3 separate regions of the Homo sapiens genome follow, and all the other regions are linked to region 1. The links come from fine-mapping of genetic effects on gene expression. A gene starts in region 1. Each other region holds a variant in brackets. All regions are shown on one strand. Distances are from middle to middle. Region 1 holds the start of PIGQ (phosphatidylinositol glycan anchor biosynthesis class Q). Region 2 overlaps RAB40C (RAB40C, member RAS oncogene family). Region 3 overlaps NPRL3 (NPR3 like, GATOR1 complex subunit).

Region 1 (8,173 bases):
GCTGCTGGGCTGTGGAAACTACCTCGTGCGCACGGCGGGCAGCCCCCCAGAAGGTCCCTGCCTCCCACAAGCCCCTCCCTGGGGGCAGGAAGGACCTGCCTCGTTGCTCAGGGCACACAGGGCTTCGGCCTCCACTCTGACCCCCGCCCACGGTGGCACCCGGCAGTGCCTGGCCCTCCCTGACATCCCCACAGCCACCCCAGGGCAGGGCTCCCTCAGGGAGCATTTTCTCTCCAGGATATATTTCTCCAACGACATGGGTGCCTAGAAACGGGGAGAGAGAGGCTTACAGGTCCCGGAGGTGTGGAGAAACTGCATCCTGCACTCTCAGGCTGAGGGACACCAGCCTTCCAAGGTGGCTGTTGAGTAGGAAGCCACCTGAGCTACCGCGGTTCCCAGGCCCTGGGCCTCTCCTCCCCCTTTCTCACAGGCCCCTGCGGAGCCATGCAGCCAGCTGGGGCTCCTTCTCCACTGATGCCTTCCCTGGCGGGGCCCCACAGGGCAGGAGGACTCCCTAGCGGTGGGGGCACTACTGGCCGGCTGGCTGGGCCGCTCGCCTTCCTCAGACACAGAAAGCCCCATCTCGCCTGCACGAAGAGTGGAGCGGCCACCCTGAGCAGAGACCCCCCACGCTGGAGCCACACTCGAGGGAGGGACATAGCTTGGCCTGAGCCTGGGTCTGGAGGTCCCAGCGCCCACCACGCCCTTAGGGACGAGGGAACAGAGCGGGACGCCTGGAGGTCGCAGTGCCCACCACATCCTTAGGGACGAGGGAACAGAGCGGGACGCCTGGAGGTCCCAGTGCCCACCACATCCTTAGGGACGAGGGAACAGAGCGGGACGCCTGGAGGTCCCAGTGCCCACCACGCCCTTAGGGACGAGGGAACAGAGTGGGATGCCTGGAGGTCTCAGAGCCCACCACGCCCTTAGGGATGAGGGAACAGACCAGGATGCCTGGAGGTCTCAGAGCCCACCACATCCTTAGGGACGAGGGAACAGAGCAGGATGCACACGTCGGGGTGGTGTGACCTGTAAGTCCTCTCCCGAAGCTTGGAGGGGCTCTGGAAGAGGCCTCACACGGAAATGCCTGGGGCTTAAGAGGCCCCTGGTGCAGCTGCTCTCCTCCCCTGCAGGCAGCCCGCACTGGGGCTGGAGGATCCAGTCACTCAAGGCGGTGGGTTCTAGCTGAAAAGGGACCTTCTGGGTCAGGCTGCAGAACTCCTCAAATGCCCATTTCCTCAGTGGTCAGAGAGGGCAGGCGGCGGGTGGATGCCTGGAGGCCAGCTGACGTGAGGCACCAAGGACATCGTGAGAGGGACAAAGTGATTCTGCCTGCAAGGGGCCCAGCGTGTCTGGCTGTGTGACCACCATAGGGGACCACCCAGTACAGCCCACCTTTCACACCAGCTCAGCCCAGGGACCCATCACGCCCTGCTGGGGAAGAGCTTTCACAGGGACTAAGGAAAACTGCCCACAGATATCGTCGGAAAAGAAACACAATGGGTCTAACAGTAAACAGATGTTCTAGGGGGAGCTGGTTCTGCGGTGGGCTCACTTTGGGTAAATTCACCGAGCTACGTGCTCACGATCTGTGCGCTTTCTTTGTGTGTATTCTTTGTGCTTCATCTACAAAGTTTACCTTAAAAAAAAAAAGTGCCTTGTGTCTACCGAAGGAGATGGGAGGGCAGAAGCTACTCTTCTCTGTCGAGTAGTGAGAGAAAACTCAACGTACTGTGGGGCAAACGCCCATCACACTCCCACCTCAGCCTCTGGGACGGTCGGCGGCACAAAGAAGCCTGCACTAGCAGCTGCTGGGATCACACAGCCAGAGGAAGATGAAAGAGAAGCGATCGATAGCAGAGGAGGTATGGGACGGGAGAAAGCAACGTGAGCATCTTTAAAGACTGAGGAAACACACACACACACACACACACACGGGCGCCAGGCTAGCCACACACACACACACACACACACACGGGCACCAGGCTAGCCAGACACACACACACACAGGCGCCAGGCTAGCCAGACACACACACACACACACACACACACACACACAGGCTAACCAGACACACACAGGCTAGCCAGACACAAACACACACACACACACACAGGCTAACCAGACACACACAGGCTAGCCAGACACACACACACGGGCACCAGGCTAGCCACGGGTCCCAGGCTAGCCAGACACACACACACACACGGGCACCAGGCTAGCCATGGTTGCCAGGCTAGCCAGACACACACACACACACGGGCGCCAGGCTAGCCACACACACACACACAGGCTAGCCAGACACACACACACACACACAGGCTAACCAGACACACACAGGCTAGCCAGACACACACACACACACACACGGGCGCCAGGCTAGCCACGGGTGCCAGGCTAGCCAGACACACACACACACACACGGGCACCAGGCTAGCCAGACACACACACACACACACACACACACACACACACACACACACACACACACACACACACACACACACACACGGGCGCCAGGCTAGCCAGAAGAGCTTCCTCTGCTAAGAATGAGCCCGAGTGCTCTTGAGAAGCCATTCCCAGACCAGGCAGGTAGGGAGGTCGACCATATAAAGTAGTAAGACTAAGACTTCCCTCTCCTCCCCGTGAATGAGGGAATGGGGGCACCCCAGCCCAGTTAGGACGGGCCAGGGCCATCTCTGGCTGAGCCGCCCCTCCCTGCCACCGCTCCACAAGAGCTCTGGAGAATTTGCGTTTCCCAGCGCCTTGTTTGAAAAATAAACACCAACCTGGCGCGGTGGCTCACGCCTGTAATCCCAGCACTTTGGGAGGCCGAGGCGGGCGGATCACTTGAGGTCAGGAGCTTAAGACCAGCCTCGATGGGGGTGAAACCAAGTCTCTACTAAAAATACAGAAATTAGCCGGGCGTGGTGGTGGGCACCTGTAATCCCAGCTACTGGGGAGGCTGAGGCAGGAGAATCGCTGGAACCCGGGAGGCAGCGGTTGCAGTGACCCGAGATCGCGCCATTGCACTCCAGCCTGGGCGACAGAGCGAGACTCCCTCTCAAAATAAATAAATAATGAAAAACAAACACGAGTTCAGCCTGGGCAACATGGTGAGACCCCGTCTCAAAACAAACAAACAAACAAACTTGCTTGCCTTCCTCAAGCAGGGCCTTCCCCTCTCATTTGGGAAGAGCCTACGATTCCGTTTTTTGCCCTTTCCTGCAAACCGGGACAACTGCGAAGGGCCCACAGCCAGGCCCGGGCCGCCGACCGCCCTTGCACAGGGTCCACAGGGGCCCAGGTCGGCGCGGGCCCGGGGGCGGCCCCACTTCTGGGAGGAGAAAGCAGCGGCGCCGCGGGCGGGAGTGCGGAGCCCCCAGCCCAGGCCCGGAGCCGCAGGGGCGCTGCCCGAGGTCCCGCCGCGCGCCGCCCACCCCCCCTGCTCACCGGGTGCTTCCGGGGCCGCGCGCTCGGGCGGCGGGGTCCGGATGGGGTTGGGGACCCCGATGGGCGGGCCCGGGCAGACGACGGCGCTCGCTGCCTCCAGCCCCGCCGCGGGACCCGAGCCCCACTTCCGCCGGCTCCGCGCGTTGCCGCGCGACGGTCCGGCCCCCAAAGGCGCCCGGGCTGCCCGCCCGCCCGCCCGACCCGAGCGTTCCGCGGCGCAGCGTGCCCGCCCAGTCCCCAGGCCCGGACCTCCCGAGCCTGCCTCCGGGCCGCCAGCCCCGCGTCAGCTCGGTTTCCTCACCTGAGAAACTGACTGGACCTGGCCTTCGTGGAACCCGGACCCCGCCTGGCTCCCAGCCTCCCCAAGTGAACAGGTCCCCAGGCCCTGCGGGATTCCAGGAAGGCCCCAGCCCCAGCCCGGTCCCGCCCCCGTCACTCTGTTGTCTGCAGAGGGGCCGCCCCCAGATCCCCAAGGCCAGTGGTGCCGGGAATTTTGAGCCCTGGTAGGACCAGCCCAGAGGCTGCCGCCAGCGATCGTCAGGAGAGAACACACAGGCGTCCAGCCCCTCCCGATCCCAGGAACAAGACCCCAGCCCAGACCTCAGCGGCAACTCCGTTTATTGAGCACCTAACTACATTGCGCAGTTAGTCCCCCACCCACAGGACCCAGACATATGAGGGACCTCTCAGGGGGGATGTCCTGTGATACAGGGGAGCCCCACCTCCCCACCCCACAGGGGTAGAGCCAGACACCGTCCCCTCCCAGCTCCCTCCCCCATACAGGCCCTTCCCTGGACCCCAGACCCACGGAGTAACCCAGACGCCTCTCCTTTCACGCCTCATTTCCCCACTTGTAAAATGGGAGGAGAGGGTTAGACCCCTATTTTTTCTCAGTTTTCCAAAGCAGCAGGAGTCTCTCCTTGTAGGAAGCTCCCCCAGACCCTCCCAGCACGGCTGCACTGGGAGGACAAACAGCATGGAGCTGTTTGTCCCTGTCTGCAGAATGAAGGCCCAGACAGCTTTCATTCATGGGGACGCGGAAGAAAAGGCATCCAGGGTTCAGCCAGCCATGGGCCTCCAGACACTCCAGGGTTGCCTCCCCCTTACCTCTGCCAGGCCCAGAGAAGCTACTGGAGGCTCAGGACTCTAGGTCCCTCTGAGGTTGGGGACATTTAGGGGCCACACCCCTGCCCCAGGCCGCCCCGCCCAGCCCAGCCCAGCCACACCCTCCCTGCCTGTCTGCCCCCGATTAGGAGGCCTGGGCAGGGGCACCTGGTGGGAGAGTCTGCCTAGCTGTGTGCCGGCAGCTGGCCCAGGATCTCAAGGCTTCAGCTGCCAGCCCCAAAGTCCAGGCACAGGGCCTGAGGGGGTGTGGGGGGCATGAATGCAGGGGCCAGGGCACTGAATGGGGACAGCAGAGAGCAGCCCTGGCTGGGGAGGCTGCAGGCCTGGCAGGGGCAGCCTGGGAAGCAGACTCAGGGCTGCTCCTGAGATCCGGAGCCTCACCAGCAGGAGAACTCGAGCCAAGCCCAGGGCCCAGCCCAGGTGGTGCTGGCATCAGGCAGGCAATGCCCATAGCCTGGAGGCTCCACCCATCCTGAGGGTTCCTCCCGCGGTGATCCAAGGGCCTGGGAGCTGGCCTCAGGCACAGGAGGGCTGCTCCAACCCAGCCTCAGGTCAGGCCAGCTCCTTGAGGCCCTGGTACACCTTGATGGAGTTGTCCTTGGCATCAGCCACCAGGAGCTGGCCCTGGGGTGCACAGGCCACTCCCAAGGGCTGCCCAAGCCCCTCTGACACCAGGCAGATGGGTGGCCCAGCCCGGGGAAACAGGGTCACCTGGCGCCTCTGCTCGTCTGCCACAATAACATTGCCCTCTGAGTTGGAGCAGATGCCCGCTGGGCAGCCGAAAGTGTGCCCCGTCCAGCCCCCCAGGGAGCCCAGGGGTTGGCGGGCACTGCCAAACAGCCTCACATCCCCAAACTCCTCACTCACAGCAAGGCCCCCATCAGGCCCTGGGCCCACCCAGCAGGGGCCCTCCAGACCCAGCATGGAGGCTGGGGCCAGGGGCTCCCAAGCAGGACCCAACGAGAAGCTGTGCACAGCCCCAGGCAAGTAGTCCGTCACCAGGAGGCGGTTGAGGGCATCCACAGCCAGCCCTCGGGGAGACAGGAAGGTGCCCACTGTCACCCAGTGGCCCCCGGGGTCCCGGGCTGTGTGCTGGAGTGCATGGACAGCCCCATGGATGGGATCGCTGACCACCACAAGCCCTGACGCTGTCACAGCCACGTCCTCTGGAACGAAGGCCCCGCTCCCCGGAGTGCGGCAGGGCAGGAGGCAGATGGGGCGTCCCTCCAGATCTAGCACGTGGACACAGGGTGCAGCCCCGGCCGTGAGGAAGAGCAGGCCATCGGGGGAGCAGTGCAGGCCCCGGGGCCCTCCCACAGCCCCTGCGGGCACCCGGATCCACCCAAGCAGCCGGAGCTGCCGGGAGCCCGTGGAGTCTCCAGGTGGGTCCAGTGTGAGGTGCAGACACCTGGAGGCCAGAGTCCAGTCAGTCCGAATCACCGTCTCAGCTTCTCTGCAGCTGGGTCACGCTTGGGGCTGCAAGAGAGAGAATAAGGCCCCACTGTGTGTGGGAATGGCAAAGTCACTCCTCCAGTTTCTTCCTATGAGGCCGGGTCCTCCTGGTCCTGAGGGTCTACCTGGCCACCAAGCCCAGCGGCCACCCTAGTGTCTAGGTGCCTGGGACTTGAGTCTGGGAGACACATGACCCGTGGAGCTCGCTGTGGGTTTTCCCCTGAGCCCCAGATGAGCTCATGGGCCTCAGACAGATAAGCAACATTTCTCAAATCCATCTGCCTGTGGAACCCCTTTCTACGGCGGGGGGGCGGTCACCCACACACAGCCCTTCTACCCGAGCCCCTAGGTCAGGGAGACTTCTGACCCCTTAGGGGCGAGGCAGCCTATTCCGAGGGCCTCCACCTGCCCCACCGAGAGAGGCCGGGGGGAGGGGTCTCTTACCTGGGCCCTGTCTCGCTGGGCCCTGCTTCGGGGCTGGGTGGCTGCAGCCTCTGTTGTTGGAAACTAGAACTGGAGGAAGTGGGAGGAGCCACTGGCAGGGACGCAGCTGGGCCGGGTGGAGGAGGGAGAGTGCAGTCTCCGGCCTTGGCCCCTGAAGCTTCTATGAAAGAAAAACCAGGTCCCCTGAGGACTCCCCATGCTGTGGTGTTCCTGCCTCCGCGCCTTGTTGCAGGCTGCGCCCTCTGCCCGGACACTATTCCCACGTCCCCTACACGGCCAGATGCCATGCAGCCCACCCCCCTCCAGGGGTCCCCCATGGTCCCCCCACAACCAGCAAGTTCATTACTCCAAGTGGCAAGGCAGCCCCAGGCTGCCACCCCCAAGCAGGGTCCTTGGGTCTGGACCACAGGCGGGTGACCTGCTGGCTGAGGCACCCTCCATGAGGCCTGTCCTGCTCCCCACGGGTGACAGCGAAGGAGGTCGTGTCTCCACACCTGGGAGACGGGTGCTGTTGCCCCCAGCAAGGCCATGCTCACCTGTCTGCTCAGTGGGGGTGAGAAACTGAGGTGCAGTGGACATATGGGGTGCAGTGGACATATGGGGGGCGGGGGCTGAGGACAGGGAGTCTCCCTCAGACTCGGGACTTGGGAACAGTTCCTGGCTGCCCAGAGCCCCCTGCAGCCCCTCCAGGAAGCCTCTGGGTAGAGGGGCCCGGCTGGGACCTGTCCCCACAGCACTCCGCGCCTGGCCAGGCAGCACCCCAGCTCTAGCTGCCCCGAGGCAGGGTCGGGGCTGATGCTATCTCCCTGGTAGTTAATGGGGCCGCTGCCAGCCTGCTTGGACTGGCCCCAGCCCGGCTGGACGCAGGCAGGAACTGCTTCTCCTCCTGGGGGGGCGATGTGGGCTCCAGAGCCCATTCCAGGGTGGGCGTGGAGGGTGTGGCCAGCTCTCCCAGGAGAGAAGTGATTTGCTGTGGGGGTCCCGGGTGCCCCTCCCTGTCTGCCCATCCCCTGCCCGTGGGAGGGCCAAGCCAGGCCCTGCTGGGAGGGAGGCAGTGAGCTGTGAAGGCTGATACCTATCACGGCTGCAGGGGCTGGCAGGGGCCAGCAGAGCCCACGCTGGGTGAGCAGCCTCCAGCCACAGAGCCCCGGGGCCACCGTTTAACCGCAGGAGAGCTGATATGAGCGCGGCCTTGCTGGATTCAGAGGCTAGAGGATGTTCAGGGGTCCGTGCCCACCCCCGACACACCAAGACACAGGCCGAGCAGCCCAGTCCACACGCCTCTCCACCCCCGACACACCAAGACACAGGCCGAGCAGCCCAGTCCACACGGCTCTCCTGGCTCAGCTCCCGTCGCCGATGTCCCGCCCCACCCCCAGACCCCAGCCCCGCGGGGAGGGCCCAGCCCACAGGAGAGGGCCGAGTCTGAAGACAGAGGCCCAGCAGGACTGCTGCCCACCCAGGCCTCCCAGGCCAGGACACTTCCTTAGGGGGGTGTCCAGGTGGCTACACTAGGGCCCCAAAGGAAGGAGGCACAGACGGCGTGTGTGAACAGTTTCTGTTTTAATGTCCACAATTGTGATCAATAAATAACTGTGACCTCCAGTGTCCCTGTGTGGCCCCAGGGACAAGCGTTGGCCACGGCCCGTGGGGGTCTATCCACATGCATGCGGAGGCGGGGCAGGTCCCAGGCAGGTGAGG
Region 2 (8,173 bases), 27 kb before region 1:
GACCTTGTGATCCGCCCGCCTCGGCCTCCCAAAGTGCTGGGATCACAGGCGTGAGCCACCGTGCCCATCCGGCACCAAAGCTCTTTAAAAAAGTCCAACAACAATGTTTTAAACTCGGCAGGTTAGGTGACATCCATTTCTATTACTTACACTTTGCACTTGCTACTATTACTATTATTATGACTACTATTTTGCATATACTCAATTTTTAATAAAGTAATTTAAGAAGCTGACATACTAGCTATCCCTCCCCACCAGGAGGACACAGGCTCTTCAGAGAGATGGCCGTTTCCAGGGCAGGCAGGACCCACATCTGCTGGAAGTACAGACTGTTCCAGGACACAGGGAGCTCCGGGAACTCAGGGCATAGCCCAGGACGCAGGTGCCACCTGAAGAGGCTCCAACATCAAGGGGGCCATGGGAGTCCCAAACCAAACAGGAAAGGAGTATGATGCCACAAGGGAACAAAACTTTGCAAATCCACGCTGACTGATGCCACGAGGGAACAAAACCTTGCGAATCCACGCTGACTGATGCCACGAGGGAACAAAACCTTGCGAATCCACGCTGACTGATGCCACGAGGGAACAAAACCTTGCGAATCCACGCTGACTGATGCCACGAGGGAACAAAACCTTGCGAATCCACGCTGACTGATGCCACGAGGGAACAAAACCTTGCGAATCCACGCTGACTGATGCCACGAGGGAACAAAACCTTGCGAATCCACGCTGACTGATGCCACGAGGGAACAAAACCTTGCGAATCCACGCTGACTGATGCCACGAGGGAACAAAACCTTGCGAATCCACGCTGACTGATGCCACGAGGGAACAAAACCTTGCGAATCCACGCTGACTGATGCCACAAGGGAACAAAACCTTGCTGAATCCACGCTGATTAATGCCACGAGGTAACAAAACCTTGCTGAATCCACGCTGACTGATGCCACGAGGGAACAAAACCTTGCTGAATCCACGCTGACAGTAGCGAACACCCACGGGTGTGCATTTTCACGTACATGCCTATCGACAGAAGCAGCCATGGCAGCAGCGCACACGGAGGAGGCACGGCGTGGCCCCAAGGGAAGCTGCCTCCTCCTTGCTGACCTGGTGAAGTGGGTCCTGCTGGCATCAGCTGACCTGGCGGCTCCTCTCAGGCAGGAATCAGGTGGGCGCAAGACTCTGCGGGCAGCCACTAGGGCTGTGGCCGGCCGACACGGGCAGGCATCAGCCTGACACTGCCTTGGCAGAGCCTGAGGACACAGACACCCCTCGGAGCAAAGCTGGTGGCACAGGCAGAGAAGGGTCTCCTGTCAGTGGCAGCTTCGGCCGGGGCCGGGGCCTGGGCTGTGACCATACTCCCCTCCCCTGCAGCAGTGACTTTCTGGACCGAAACACAGCACCTCGGCAACCCTGATCAGTGTCACTGTGTTTGTGTTCAGAGTCCTGAATCCTGATGTCATCTACCCTATTACCGCCCCTCCCAGCTAGGTCTGACACACAGGCTGTACCTGCTGTGCCCAGGTGGCCGACAACGTTGCTGACCAGGAAGTCAGGCGAAAGCCCAGCAGCAGCCGCCGGCCCCGGGCAGGGAAAGCAGCACACAGGCTCCCACCGGGTTACCCACGCTGCTGGAGCTGCTGGAGAGTGCTGTGCTTGACCGCCCGGCCTACACCTTCACTCAGGGTTGACATGAGGTTCTTACATCCGGCCGCTGTACAAACTGTAAAGTACCTGCCCATTTCCAGGACTCAGCTCTTCTCTTCTTCCATCCTCTTTTCTTTATTTTTTATTTTTTGAGACAGGGTCTCACTCTGTCACCCAGGCTGGAACGTAGTGCAACAGTCAGACTCACTGCAGCCACCACCTCCCAGGCTCCAGTGAGTTTCCCACCTCAGCCTCCCAAGTAATTGGGACTACAGACGTGCACCACCACACCCAGCTAATTTTCTTTTTTCTTTTTTTTTTTTTTTTTTTGTGAGACAGAGTCTCGCTCTGTCACCAAGCTGGAGTGCAGTGGCACAATCTCAGCTCTCTGCAACCTCCGCCACCCAGGTTCAAGCAATTCTCCTGCCTCAGCCTCCCAAGTAGTTGGGGCTACAGGTATGCGCCACCACGCCCGGCTAATTTTTGTATTTGTATTTGTATTTTTTTTTTTTTTTGAGGTGGAGTCTCGCTCTGTCACCCAGGCTGGAGTCAGTGGCGTGATCTCGGCTCACTGCAAGCTCTGCCTCCTGGATTCACGCCATTCTCGTACCTCAGCCTCCCAAGTAGCTGGGACTACAGGTGCCCGCCACCATGCCCAGCTAATTTTTTGTATTTTTATAGAGACAGGGTTTCACCATGTTAGCCAGGATGGTCTTGATCTCCTGACCTCGTGATCCACCTGCCTTGGCCTCCCAAAGTGCTGGGATTACAAGCGTGAGCCACCATGCCTGGCCAATTTTTGTATTTTTAGTAGAGACGGGGTTTCATCATGTTGGCCAGGATGGTCTCAATCTCTTGACCTCGTGATTCACCCACCTTGGCCTCCCAAAGTGCTGGAATTACAGGTGTGAGCCACTGCACCCGGCCTTTTTTTTTTTTTTTTTTTTTTTTTTTGTAGAGATGGGGTCTCACTGTGTTGCCCAGGCTGGCCTCAAACTCCTGGGCTCCAGCACTCCGCCTACCTCGGCCTCCCAAGGTGCTGAGATTGCAGGTGTGAGCCACCGTGCCCAGCCCTCTGCTCTTTTCCAAAGATGCTGAGCTGGGCTGGGCACAGTGGCTCATGCCTGTAATTCCACCAACTTTGGGAAGCTGAGGCGGGCGGATTGCTTGAAGTCAGAAGTTCAAGACCAGCCTGGCCAACACAGCAAAACCTCTGTCTCTACTAAAAATGTAAAAAATTAGCCAGGTGTGGTGGTGCATGCCTGTAATCCCAGCTACTCAGGAGGCCAAGGCAGGAGAATCGCTTGAACCCATGAGGCTCAAGAGGTTGCAGCGAGCCAAGATAGTGCCATCGAACTACACCCTGGGTAACGGAGCAAGACTCTGTCTCAAAAAATAAAAATTAAAAAAAAAAAAAAGATGCTAGATGGCTGTCCCTCTCACAGGATGGGCATGTCTTTCATCAGGGTCAGTTTACACAGCCAGGACCACATCACCCATCCAGGATTCGAATCCTTCCCAGTTTGGTTTGAGGACTGTGTTCACTGTAAAGACGGCGAAGGCTGCTCAGGGGCCGAGTGCTTCTGTTTCCACTCTGCCATCTGGGAATATGGGACCAACTCTTCCCTTCACCCTTTCCACAACTCCAGGCCCCCCAGCACCAAGCCCTCTGTAAGCCATGGTCAGAAGACCCTTCCACATGCCCCTGCCACCACCCACCTCATCACCAGCACTAGAACCTGGCTGCTCCTGAGCCCCTCCCATCCCATCTTGCCTGGACCACCTCCCCCTGCTACCTACATGTGCAGCACCCTGGCGGTGTCTGGTCGTGCCCTGGTCTTCCGCCCCATACCCATGGGTCCCTACCTCTCCACAGCGCCAATGCCCTTGTCCCTCCGCTAATTTCTGAAGGACAAACGTCCAGAAATCTCTGCTTTACTCAAAATCCTGATCTCAGCACGAGACAGCCGCGCACTGCCTGTATCAGAGTGCGCCGCCATCCCCAGGTCGGCTCAGAAGCCTCCTC[G/C]CTACCTTAGGCTCAAAGTGCGAGTCCACCCTGCTGACATCTGTTTACCTTCACTGCCAAGAGGACTGAAGAGGCCCCTCTTCCACCCAGCTCCTGCCCTGAGGATGCCCACAGCCCATGGTCTTGGCAGCCAGTCCTTCTTCCCACAGCTGCTCCTCTTCCCACCGCCTTCGTAACTTCTGGTCCCTGACACCCGCCAGTTCCACAGTCTGCACATCCTTCTCCCGACCGCCCAGGAAGTCAGCTCAGCCTGACAAGCAGTCTCCCCGCCTTCTCACAGTGGTTCGGCAGCGTTCTCCGCACCAGGATGCTGGACGCCGACACCTTTCCCTGCTTACTCCAAACGCCCGGCGGATGACACCCTGGCTGACGTGGCCCCTGGGCCCCAGAACGGCCCTCGGTGGGGTGGCATCGTACCATGTGCTGCGCAGGGGAGGACTCAGCTGTGATGCAACCCCTTCCTGCTCTACGCCAGCTCGCAGGGGCTCCAGACCAGGGTAGGCGGCAGCTTTTCAGGGACCAGCAGCTTCGCGCCTTCTCAGCTGCAATCTTCAAATAGAACAAGAGGCAAAAGTACCTGCGAGGACCCAGATCCCTCCCTTGTGTCCTTCCCGCCCACCTCTCAGCTCCCCGATGTGGCTTCCTTCCTGAAACACTGTTCAATTTAGCTCATCGTGCAGGCCACAACACGTGTGCTCGACACGAGTCATCTGTGTCCACACCACCCTGCGAGAGACCTGGCTGGCACTGCCGTGCACCTGCCATGCAAGCATTTGCCCTGTTGCCTGTGAGCGCTTAGAGCAAGTGCTAAGGACTGGAGGTGGACATTAACTCACTTGTCCAAAAGTTCTGGCATCTGGCCTCTGGACAAACTTAACATTCAATATTCTACCTACTGACTCAACAGTTTCCTGAAAATTTAAGTAAGGCCATGCCAGTCCAACTTATAAAACAGCACAATTAGAGGCCAGGCACAGTGGCTCACCCTTGTAATCCCAGCACTTTGGGAGGCCGAGGAGGGTGGATCACAAGGTCAGCAGTTCAAGACCAGCCTGGCCAACACAGTGAAACCCCATCTCTACTACAAATACAAAAATTAGCTGGGTGTGGTGGCAGGTGGCTGTAATCCCAGCTACTCGGGAGGCTGAGGCAGTAGAATCACTTGAACCCGGGAGGTGGAGCTTGCAGTGAGCCGAGACCGTGCCACTGCACTCCGGCCTGGGCAACAGAGTTAGACTCCGTCTCAAAAAAAAAAAAAAAAAGAAGAAAAAAGTTATAATGACCCACAGAAGTCCTACCTCCTGACCACATGGGTTCTCAGATGCCAGCCAGGGTCATCCCGGGCCTGAGGCGGTCCTCTGAGGCTTGGGTCTCAGGAGAACTTAGTGTGCGCGGTGCAGCAGAAGCAGGTGTGTGGCAGCCGTCCCCAGGCCCAGGTGGACGTGAGGAGGACAGGGGAAGAGCCATGAAGCCCGCTGCTTCACAGGAGGCCTGCAGGGCGGCTCCTCCCGGACCCCAAGCCCACCCCTACAGCTGCCGCCTCCTGAGCCTCAATCCCTCGTCTGCACAGTGGGGGTGGTGCTGCCTTCTCACAGGTGGTGGTGGGGGCTACACGGGGGCAGCGGAAAGCGCCCACCGGTGCTGGCAGGCAACACTCATCACACGCTGGCAGCATTAGCTGTTGCCATGGTGAACACCCCGTTCCTCCCACAACACCACCCTGCTGGAAAACCCGGCACCTCACAGAGGAAAGGCAAACCCCAAAACACTGCCCCAGAAAACGAGCAAAACCCCCGAGGCAGGTGGATCACTTGAGGTCAGGGGTTTGAGACCAGCCTAGCCAACATGGTGAAACCTGCCTCTACTAAAAATACAAAAATTAGCCACGCATGGTGGCAGGCGTCTGTAATCCCAGCTACTCAGGAGGCTGAGACAGGAGAATCACTTGAACCCAGAAGGCAGAGGTTGCAGTGAGCCGAGATCGCGCCACTGCACTCCAGCCTGCGCAAGAGAGTAAGACTTCGTCTAAAAAAAAAAAAAAAAAAAAGGAAGACGAGCAAAACCTAATCAAGTGCAGGGGAGGAGAAGGGACTCTGGGCTGCAGTGGTCAGTGGTGCCCAACACCAACAGTAGGCACAGGGAAGCCACGCACGGCTGTCCAGTCACCTAAAGACACACAGCTAGAACCTCCCACGAAACCCTCAGCTAGCCCTGGGGATAAGCAGCCGACGACACATCAGGACAATGAAACACGGAGGAGCCTCTCAAGATAGTGTCCCCTGGAATTGGCCACTTCGGAGCCACGAACTTCAAGCCAGATGAGAAGAAACGTTTGTAACTGTTTGGAGAAAGCTCAGGGAGTCGTGAAGCCGAAGAAGCTGGGACACCCACACAGGGTGCCCTCGCTCCCATGGGTACAGCAGGCAGCGTGTGGCCCCACAGACATCTCAGTGACCACCAGGCCCCAACATCCACAGCAAACCGTGATGTTAGCCTCGCCATGTCCACAACCGCCTCCCTCCGTTTCTCCCCACAACTTGCCAGGCTCAAAGGACCGGAGTGTCACTCAGCAGCTTCCACCAACACTGAACCCCAAAAGAGCAGAGAGAGAAATAAAGTCAAGCCAGGATTAACCCCTTCTGAAGTCTTCCAGGACCCGGGCACACACACCCTGACCAACGTGGCGGGAGGAAAACTTGCTCCCAGGAAGGTTTGTGGGGACACGGTGCCGAGGGTGGAACTGCCTTAATCCAGGACCTTCGATGCCCCCTGCAGAGCGGGAGCGGCTGGGCTTGGGGAAGGGTGTGCACCCTGTGCGGGTGGTTCCTGGGGGCCAACACGGGCCCACCACCCTGGCCCACACCCTGGAGCCTGACTGCAGGTTCGCTCCTGAACTGCAGCTTTCTCCTCCCCGCCGCGTGCACCACCCACACTCCTGGATGAAGCATAATTCCTGCCGGGTAACTCGCCACCATCACCCAGGGGCACTCTATGCAAAGCGCTCTGTTCCATCCTGAAGAGAGCATGAAGCACTCCCTAAGATCACTGCTGGGTGTCAAAGAAAGGAAAGCCTTTCCAGACCTAGAGATCCAGAAACCCAGCGCACACCCACATTAGGAGACACGGAAGAGCTCACAGGGGCTCCCACAGGTGCTGGGCGTGTGGTCACACGCCACTGCCTCAGGTGCCAGTACTAAGAAAAAGGTCACTTCGATGACTCATTTGTTTGTGAAGCTGGAGAGGGCAATGTACGCTCACACACCTGTCTGAGGAACATGCCAGACAAGACTTCCAGGCAGGTAAGCGATCCGGTGTGAGCTGAAGGAGCTGTGGGCCATGCTGAAGCAGTAAGCCTTGCACAGAAGGGGCCTCCCTGCCAAGGGCACCCACTGCCCAGCAGGCAGCCCTGAAGAAACACGGAAGCTGGAAACACAGAGGGCACCTCCCAACAAAGGAGAGAAAGCAATGGAGGTTAACACGTACGTCCTTCCCACGAGGGCCAGAGGCCTAAAGCTCCTGCTACAACTCTTTCAAAGGAGAATAAATTCTCAAGATGCTGAGTCCTGAGAACCAGCTGCTCCTGAGCTTCTGAGACCCTGAATAGCCCCCTTGGGAAACCCTCAGATCCACCAACTTCACCCTGATGAAGAGGGCTGGCCCCTGAGGTTGGCAAGCTGCCACCTGACCACAAAGACCTGCTCCTTGTGCTGTGCACGTCTTAACCTTGAGACCTTAGACACAGAAAGCGCGTTCCACAGCCCAGAGGCGCTTCCTTCTCTGCTCGAGGCCACAGGACTCCTGCGGGGACCTGGAAGTGTGCCCCGGGCCCTGAGAGCACGTGGTGTCTTTCTAAGAGTGGACTCTCCTCTCTGCCTCTGGTCCAAGCCACTGTGAGCCTCTGAAGTCTCTGCAAGCAGGCAGGTCTCCACGTCTTACACAATACTGGCCCCACTTCAGTGAGCATGTCAGAGGAAGTGTGGCAATGCCCCACAGCCCGACGAAGGGGACAGGGAGGAAGGAGGGTCCTGTCTCTCCAGCTCCTGGCTGTGTGGTGCAGTTGGGTAGGCGAGCTGGCCAGCATGGCTGAGCCGGCCCTCAGAAGCACGCCTTCATGTCCTGGGAAAACACCGATTGATGAAACCCAATCCTTCCCGTGCTCTTCTGAACATGCACAAACACGCACGCCGCCAGCCTCCTGGGAGTGCGCAGCGCCCCTGGAGCCAAGCTTTAGAAGGCAACGCCACCTTCACAATCAACTTGGCCGCCCACCACCTGAGTCAGGAGTTACCAATTCTGGGGCAGTCACTGTCAAGTGCAGGACCAGGAGGCGGCAGGTGCAGGGGCCTAACGTGTGAGCCCCCAATGCCCCAGTGGGCCTTACACTTCCCCCACCTCAAAATGGACACAGAGCTCTTCCTCCCTGGCCCTTTCCAACCCCTCCTCCAGGCTGAAGCCAGGAGCACAAGCTTCCAGAGCCCCCGGTGCTGCTGCCCACTGC
Region 3 (8,173 bases), 480 kb after region 1:
ACAGGCATGAGCCACCATGCCCAGCTGTGCCTTTGGACTTCATGGGCTGGACAGGACTCAGTAAACACCATGTCCTGCCCACCTTCATAGCATTCAGGAGACAGAGAATTTTAAAAGAACTCACCACTCCATACAACCCTGCAGAGTGAGGGAGGCAGTGACCCTCCGTGTCCTGATGAGCACCGACCACATGGTAAATGCCTGTGGCTGTTCACTGGTCCTGTGTTGAGCTTTTGAAAGGAGCTGGGCCTGGCTTTCCTGAGGCTGTCTGGCAGGAGTTTGTGCTGGACACTGTGCCTCTCATCCTTGCTGTCAGAGTCTCCTTGGACAAAGCTTTGATGCCCTCTTCTGAGGTTGTCTGGCAGGAGTTTGTGTGGACAGTGTGCCTCTCACCCTTGCTCTCAGAGTCTCCTTGGACAAAGCTTTGGTCTCCTTTTGATGTCCCCTTCACTTCCCTGCCGTGGCCTTGACTGGGGAGAGGGAAGGCTGTTTGTCATTGTTTTCTTCTGTCTGTACCCCTTCCCTGCTGTCCCTGCTGCAGGTCAGCAGGGCGTTGCTGCTGGTGTGGCGGTGCGGAAGCCCCTGGGGCCCAGCCCTGGTGGGTCACTCTGTTTCCGGAGATAGCCCCCTGGGGAGCACCTGCCTCAGGTGTGAATGTCACCAGATAGTTTAAAGTCCCTCATGTGGCTGGGTGCAGTGGCTCATGCCTGTAATCCCAGCACTTTGGGAGGATGAGGCAGGAGGATTGCCTAAGCCCAGGAGGTCACGACCAGCCTAGGCAACATAGGAAGACCCTGTCTTTACAGAAAATTAAATAATTAGCTGGGCATGGTGGTGTGTGCCCATGGTCCCAGCTACTCAGGAGGCTGAGGTGGGAGGATCACTTGAGCCCTGGTGTTCGAGGCTGCAGTGAATTGTGATTTTACACACTGCAGTCTGGGCAACAGAGCAAGACCCAGTCTCAAAAAATAAAATAAAATAAAATTCTTCATGTTTATATCAATCCAGAGAGAATCTACAAGTAAATTTTGGGTGTGTCATGATAAAATTAGTATGTTACAAGACTTCAAACACTACACAAATTATAGACACAGAAAGTTCCCACAGTCCCATATCCCACAGGTAACCTAGATCCCTCCAGGTTTTTTATCTGTATATATACATTTTATTGTGTGTGTGTGTGTGTGTGTGTGTGTGTGTGTGTATATATATATATATATATATATATACACACACAAACATTTTATTTTGTATTATGAAAATTAGGATCGTGCTGTATATTCGTTGTGATTGGCTGAATAATGGCCCCCACAGATATACACATCCTAATCCCCAAAATCTATGAATGTGAACTCATGTGGGACTTTGGAGATGTTACTAAGTAGAAGATCTTGAGATGGGAAGATCATCCTGTTGAGCTCTAAATGTAATCTCTAAGGCCCTTATCAGAGGGAGGCAGAGGAAGATCTGATAAAAAGAGGCAGCGATGTGGCCACAGAGACAGAGTGGAGTGACGTGACCGCAAGCCAAGAGACACTGGCCGTTGAAGAGGCAGGACGAATTCTCTTCTGGAGCTTCCAGAGGGAGCCTGGTCCTGCTGGCACCTTATGCTTGCCCTTAAGTACTGATTTTGGATTTTCAATTTCCAGAATGGACAGCATCTTGGAGAGGCTGCTGCAGGGAGAGGCAGGAGGTGGAGACCACTATGCTGAGCAGAGCTGGGGGAAAGTGGGGGTGTCTTTTTGAGAGAGACATGCGAGTGGCACGTGGGGTGAGGGAACAGGGCGGTGATGGAGCTGAAACCTGCCATGTCGGGGTTGGCGGAGCCATTGGGGGCACTACTCGCACAATCTTGGCTCACTGCAACCCCCACCTCCCAGGTGCAAGCAATCCTCCTGTCTCAGCCTCCAAGTAGCTGGGACTACAGGCATGTGCCGCAGTGCCTGGCTAATTAAATAAAAATTTTTGGCAGAGATGAGGGTCTCACTATATTGCCCAGGTTGGTCTCGAACTCCGAGGTTCAGGCGATCCTCCTGCCTTGCCCTCCCAAAATGCTGGGACTACAGGCATGAGCCACTCACTCAGTCTGGAGGCCCTGTTTTCTGAGCTGAGGTATAAGTGTCCTCAGCAGCAGGGCAGCACGGTGTCCAGGCAGGGGTGACTCACCTCCACAGAGGCCTACCCGCCAAGAGGGTGGAGTGGTGTCCTGGGCTGATGCAGAGGCAGAAGTGCGAGAGCTTAGGATTTCACACACCTTTTCGTGAAGTGCTGGGGTGCTGTGCTCTCAGACCTCAGGCCTGAGCTTTCCTCTGGAAGGGGTTTGGGTTGTGTTTGTGTTTCCTGATGTTCAAGGGTCCACAAGAGCAAAGCTGGGAGGGGGGTCTCTGTGGGAGTCGGGGCACATGGGGCAGACCTGGGGCCTTTGGGTATGTAGGGGTGGCATGCTGAGTGACTCCACACCCATCATCGGGCAAGGCCATGCTGGAGTTTTAGGGGGTATAAGAGGGCTGTGCCCCTGCCAGGACATCCAGCTAAGCCCCCTGCCCAGCTGGGCCAGCACTGTGTTCCCAGCACCCCAGACATTCCCATGCTTGTGGCCTGAGACCACCATTCTTCAGTGGGAGTCAAGACAGCATAGGATGGGAAAACAGTGCCACCAAACAGCACAGGGAGCAGTGACAAAAAGGCCATTGTGGCCGGGTGCGGTGGCTCATGCCTGTAATCCCAGCACTTTGGAAGGCCAAGGTGGGTGGATCACGAGGTCAGATCGAGACCATCCTGGCCAACATGGTGAAACCCTGTCTCTACTAAAAATACAAAAATTAGCTGGGCGTGGTGGCATGTGCCTGTAATCCCAGCTACTCAGGAGGCTGAGGCAGGAGAATCGCTTGAACCTGGGAGGCAAGAGGTTGCAGTGAGCTGAGATTGTGCCACTGCACTCCAGCCTGGGCGACAGAGCAAGACTGTCTCCAAAAAAAAAAAAAAAAAAACCATTGCTCACAGAAAGTGCTGTGTGCTGGCTGTGCCCCACATCCTAGTGAGAGGTTGCGAAGGTGCTATTCCACGTTAGGGAGGAAGTCTCGGGCCATAGCCACCAGGTGTGTTCTGCATGAGGCTGGGGCCAGCTTCTCCAGGCTGGTAGGCCATGGCCACCCAGGCTGAGAGCTGCTGACAGCTCCCGGTGGGCCAGCCTCAGGCATGGTCCTTGCAGCTTCCCTTTTGCCTGCAGGTTTTCCAGCTTGCAGCTCATCTGGTGTACTGGGGCAAGGCCATCATCATCTACCCGCTGTGTGAGAACAACGTCTACATGCTGTCTCCCAATGCCAGCGTATGTCTGTGAGTGCTGCTGGCTGCCAGAGCCTGGAGCCCCGAGTGGGAAGGGGTGAGGCTGGCAGGGCCCTCCAGATGCTGTTCTCTGTGTTGGCCAGGCACCAAAGGCTGTGGAAGCCCCAAGGCCAGGCTCTCACTTCAGCCTAACTCCTGGCCACTAGCATACCCAGGTCCCAATTCTGGTCTGGCTCTGTGCTCTGTGGCTCTCCTGTGTCCCCCATATGCCTGGCCCCCTCCTCCAGGCTGGCTCTTCTAATCCACCTTGAGGGATCAGAGGTGAGATGCAGGATGAACTGTGC[C/T]CATGGCTCCTGCTGCTGCTCAAGGGGAAGTGCCCAGGCTCTGTCCACCTGGAGGCCTGCCTGGCCTCATACCGTTCTGCCCTCATCGCACTGTCCTGACCCACCTGCCACACTTTGCTTCTCTGCTGCCCACTGAGGCCAGTGTTGAGAACACGGTGGGGGGGTCTGCTGCACTCACTGGCATGCTCACCTGCCTGCAGGTACTCCCCGCTGGCCGAGCAGTTCTCCCACCAGTTCCCATCTCATGACCTGCCGTCCGTTCTTGCCAAGTTCTCCTTGCCGGTCTCCTTGTCAGAATTTAGGAATCCCCTGGCCCCCGCTGTGCAGGAGGTGAGTCACAGAAGCTCAAGGAGCCCAGAGTGGCAGGTGTGTAGTGGATAGGCACTACCTGCCTGGCTGTTGGTTCTGATCTGAGAGCCCTCAGCACTGCCACCTGCTTCTCCTTGGTTTTGGGGGCTTGCCGTGCAAGTGCTACGTGCCCAGCAGGACCCAAAAGTCAGCTGCCGGGCCACCTGCAGATGCTTGGCCAGTGACCCAACACTTGAGCAGTTGTTCCCTCCCCATAGAGCCCACCCTGGCTGTGGCAGGCAGTTTTTAGTGTTAGAACCGAGTTAAGCAGGAGAGTGCTTACCTTTTCTGGGCCTACAGACCTGCCTTGTACCCCTTTGGGACTGGGGACTGCCTACAGATGAGGGTGCAAAGGCAGTTTTGTTCTCACTGGGCCAGGCCTGACCCTCTGAGAGTTCTGCTTCTGTCTTCACTCCCTGCCATGGTTCAGGTGGCCACAGGGTCTGTGGGTATGAGTTCTGGGGTCACTGGTCCCCAGAATCTCCTCATTCAAGAGAGCCTAGAGAGGACCCTAGTGGGCCTGGATCAGGGCAACGGGCAGGCAGGTTGGGAGCTAGGAGTGGCTGGGGGATAGGAGGCCTCCTGCAGGTCTGTGGGATGAACTGGTGCACCTGCATCTGTGGCAGGGCCAGTGGCTTCCCCTGTGGGCTGCAGGTGTCATAGCCTTGTGCTGAGGTGGCTTTGCCATCCTCCCCTCCACTGAGTTCTGGGCAGAGACTCAGAGCAGGGCCAGATAGGATACGGTGTTGGAGACAGACGAGCTGGGTGTTCTCAAGTCTTTGTCTCCAGAAGTATCTGAGTAAGTGCCAGATCTATTAGGCAAAACCAGTCCTTAAAGTTAAACCCTTTCCGTTCTCAAATTACGAATGAGAACGATTCTGGCTTTTCAGCTCCGTTAGACGCTAAACCTGACAGAGCTCTCAGTGCGGTCTTTCACAGAGCCCTTGGTTTCTGGGAGCTGAGCCAGGTTGTACCAGCTGAATAAAAGGCACTCTCTGCACCCCTGCTCTTGGGGCAGTGCTTAGGGAGGAGCTGCTGGTGCTCCCTTCTCAGAGGCCTCCTGTGGTCTAGATAACGGAGTGGCTTTTCCAGGCCATGACTGAGTGGTTGCTCCAGGCCTTGTCAAGGGGCCTAGGTCAGCCAGGTTCTGCCTGGGCTCCAGTGCTGGGAAGCCCCTCTGTTTTATTTTTGGTTTATTGATTTTATTTAATTTTGATTGCACGTCAGGCTGGAGTGCAATGGCATGATCTCGGCTCACTGCAACCTTTGCCTCCCGGGTTCAAGCAATCTCCTGCCTCACCCTCCCGAGTAGCTGGGTTTACAGGTGCCCGCCACCACGCCTGGCTAATTTTTTGTATTTTTAGTAGAGACGGGGTTTCACCGTGTTGACCAGGGTGGTCTCTAACTCCTGACCTCAGGTGATCCACCCACCTCATCCTCTCAAAGTGCTGGGATTACAGGCATGAGCCACTACGCCCAGCTTTTTTTTTATTGTTTTGATATAGAAACTTGCTTTGTTGTCCAGGCTGAAGTACAGTGGCGTGATCTTGGCTCACTGCAACCTCCGCCTCCCAGGTTCAAGTGATTCTCCTGCCTCAGCCTCCCAAGTAGCTGGGATTACAGGTGTGTGCCACCACACCCGGCTAATTTTTGTATCTTTAGTAGAGATGAGGTTTCACTGTGTTGGCAAGGCTGGTCTCGAACTCCTGAGCTCAAGTGATCCACCCGCGTCTGTTTTATTTCTTAAATTCATGTGAAGTCTGGATATCTTGCAGTCCTTTTGACCAAGTCTTCTTACTTGCCTGGGATATATCCCCCATTCCCATCCCCAGTTCCCCAGCCCCCTCCCAGGAGGTGACCCTGGCCAGCAGCTCCTTGTTGACCCTCCCAGAGATGAGTAGACAGATGTGTATCTGAGGACACTGATGTGTCTCACACTCCTTACTGTTCAACGCCTGAGTCTGGGCAGTACTTTCTCATGGGGACTGGACTCTACCTGGCACAAGGCTCCTCACTGCTCCTCACTGCCAGCCCCACCTGCTAACCCAGAGACATTGGAGGGCCTGGCCAGGACGTGCCTTCTCACGGTGGGGGTGGGGGTGGGGTGCTCCACCCCCAAGCCCAGGGTCACTGGCCTCAGCTTTCTTGTGGATCCACTCTTGTGCTCAGGGTGGACTTTCAGGTAGATCCAAGGAGAGGACTTTCTGCTCTCAGGGTACCTGCCCACAGCCTCTTTTTAAACAGTGTCTGGGCTTGTGTGGAGGTGGACTTGCTGGCTGGGTCCAACTCCAGGGCCAGTGGGCCAAAGAAGAGAGGAGGCAGAGGGGCAGCTGCAGCAGCACAGGGTGGGGGGTTTGCTCAGCGAAGCAGTCACAGGGGCCTCCACGTCTCAGGTCCTGCTCCTCAGCCAGATGCTGGGTGGCCCCGGTGTGTGGTGGGAGCCTGTGCAGGTGTGATCCAGATGTTCCCCTGGCCCCTCTCCCTTCCCAGGAGGGTGAGCGGGCCTTGCAGAGCTGGCTGGCAGCTGGGGGCTCCCTTTCTGAGAAGAGGGCCTTTCTGCCTGTGCGTCAGCACAGGGAGCGTGCTGTGGCCATGTCTAGGGCCATGGCTCCCTGATCACCCAGGAGGAAGTTGGAGTGGGGAGGGGGACCAGCCTCACCTGCTGCCACCCGCAGACCCAGCTCATCCAGATGGTGGTGTGGATGCTGCAGCGCCGGCTTCTCATCCAGCTGCACACCTATGTCTGCCTGATGGCCTCACCCAGCGAGGAGGAGCCCCGTCCGCGAGAGGACGACGTCCCCTTCACTGCCCGGGTCGGCGGTCGCAGCCTCAGCACGCCCAACGCCCTCAGCTTTGGCTCCCCAAGTAGGACCCCCAGGGCACCGCTGTGGTAGTCAGGGGAGACGCTTGGGGGTGGCATCCAGGAGGCTCAACGTGGGTGGTGCTGTGAGTGATGAGGGGCCTCCACACAGCTGCACACGCACATGCACGTGCCTCGTGTCCCCCGTGGAGACACCTCTCCTGTCTCCTAGCACCACCGTGACTCTGAGGTGGCAGCTCTGTCTCCGGGCTCTTCAGCAGGCTTGCTAGAATTAGGGGCAGCTCCCAGCCCAGCAAATCAGTGCTGGAATCTCTGCCCCAGCCTGGGAGCAGAGCAGGATCTCATACCACTACCAGGACAGCTGACACCTCTGCGCCCCAGAAGAGCCGTCATGGCCAGTGTGGCTTGAGGGCAGCAGCCTGTTGCCAGGTCCCAGGTCCCCGGTCCCCAGGCTTGGGGAAGGAAGGGGGTGGAAGACTTTGAAAGTCCCCCCTTGGCTGAGGTCTGGCTGTAGGCTTCATGCTTCATGTGAGGACCCCACCTGCCCAGGGTGCTTTGTCCTCCATCCTGGGTGAGGGACAGGATGCCCAGGCCCACCTTGGGGTGTTTGTGGGGCACACATCGCACCTCTGTTCAGGTCCCTTGAGGTTGCCCCCAGAGGGGAGGCTACCCGTTTCCCAAGTCAGCCGTATGAGGGGCGTGTCACACCCAGGAGGTGGGGCAGCAGCGAATGCTTGCAGGCAGATGTACCCTAACCCTTGTAGGAGTTAGGGGTGTCATTGGAGGCTGGCTGCTGGCTCTGCCCTCGCTGTTCCCCTGGGTGTCCTGGAATTCCACTTGGTCACCCTGACCCATGTCCCCCACAGCCAGCAGCGATGACATGACCCTCACCAGCCCCAGCATGGACAACTCCAGCGCAGAGCTACTTCCCAGCGGGGACTCGCCACTGAACCAGAGGATGACGGAGAACCTGCTGGCCAGCCTGTCGGAGCATGAACGCGCAGCCATCCTCAGTGTACCCGCAGCCCAGAACCCTGAGGACCTCCGCATGTTTGCCAGGTGGGTGTAGGTTGACCCGTTGGGACTGGGGCCAGTTGCAGGGTCAGGGCAGAAAGTGGATAGGGACGTACGCAACAGAACCACCAAATCCACTGAGAACAGATGGGGCCCTGTTCGAGATGGAGTCTCTGCATTCAGGTGTGTAGGGGCAGGTGCCACTGCCCAGGCCTGAGGGTTCGGCTTGTCACCAAGACGCCGGGCCATGGGCCTGGCATGCCTATTTTTCGGACTCTTCTCTCTCCAGTACTTCTTAGATGTTCCTTTTCCCTTGAGAGGCAGTGCCAAGTTCTTTTTTTTTTTTTTTTTTTTTGAGACG

What was found.
Region 2: its variant is fine-mapped to the expression of PIGQ in whole blood (TOPMed, PIP above 0.99).
Region 3: its variant is fine-mapped to the expression of PIGQ in whole blood (TOPMed, PIP 0.93).

What each region holds. Positions count from the first base shown.
Region 1 is chr16:565,375-573,547 of GRCh38, reverse strand. PIGQ (phosphatidylinositol glycan anchor biosynthesis class Q) reads right to left here and starts at 3,580. Exons shown (of 11, transcript NM_004204.5): 1 at 3,452-3,580. PRR35 (proline rich 35) reads right to left here. Exons shown (of 3, transcript NM_145270.3): 3 at 8,019-8,173. NHLRC4 (NHL repeat containing 4) reads right to left here and starts at 6,543. Exons shown (of 2, transcript NM_001301159.2): 1 at 6,473-6,543; 2 at 4,053-6,077. The coding sequence starts at 5,500. The coding sequence ends at 5,129. RefSeq lists enhancers at 1,739-2,633, 6,219-6,268, 6,217-7,112, 8,008-8,173 and silencers at 3,264-3,483, 3,554-3,713.
Region 2 is chr16:592,368-600,540 of GRCh38, reverse strand. The region is part of intron 1 of RAB40C (RAB40C, member RAS oncogene family); the gene reads right to left. Among named protein-coding and RNA genes, the nearest start is that of RAB40C, 6.4 kb to the right of the region's middle. RefSeq lists an enhancer at 459-960. The variant G/C (reference allele first, on the strand shown) is at 3,676.
Region 3 is chr16:88,382-96,554 of GRCh38, reverse strand. NPRL3 (NPR3 like, GATOR1 complex subunit) reads left to right here. Exons shown (of 14, transcript NM_001077350.3): 10 at 3,230-3,336; 11 at 3,830-3,959; 12 at 6,653-6,842; 13 at 7,665-7,857. Among named protein-coding and RNA genes, the nearest start is that of MPG, 14 kb to the right of the region's middle. The variant C/T (reference allele first, on the strand shown) is at 3,630.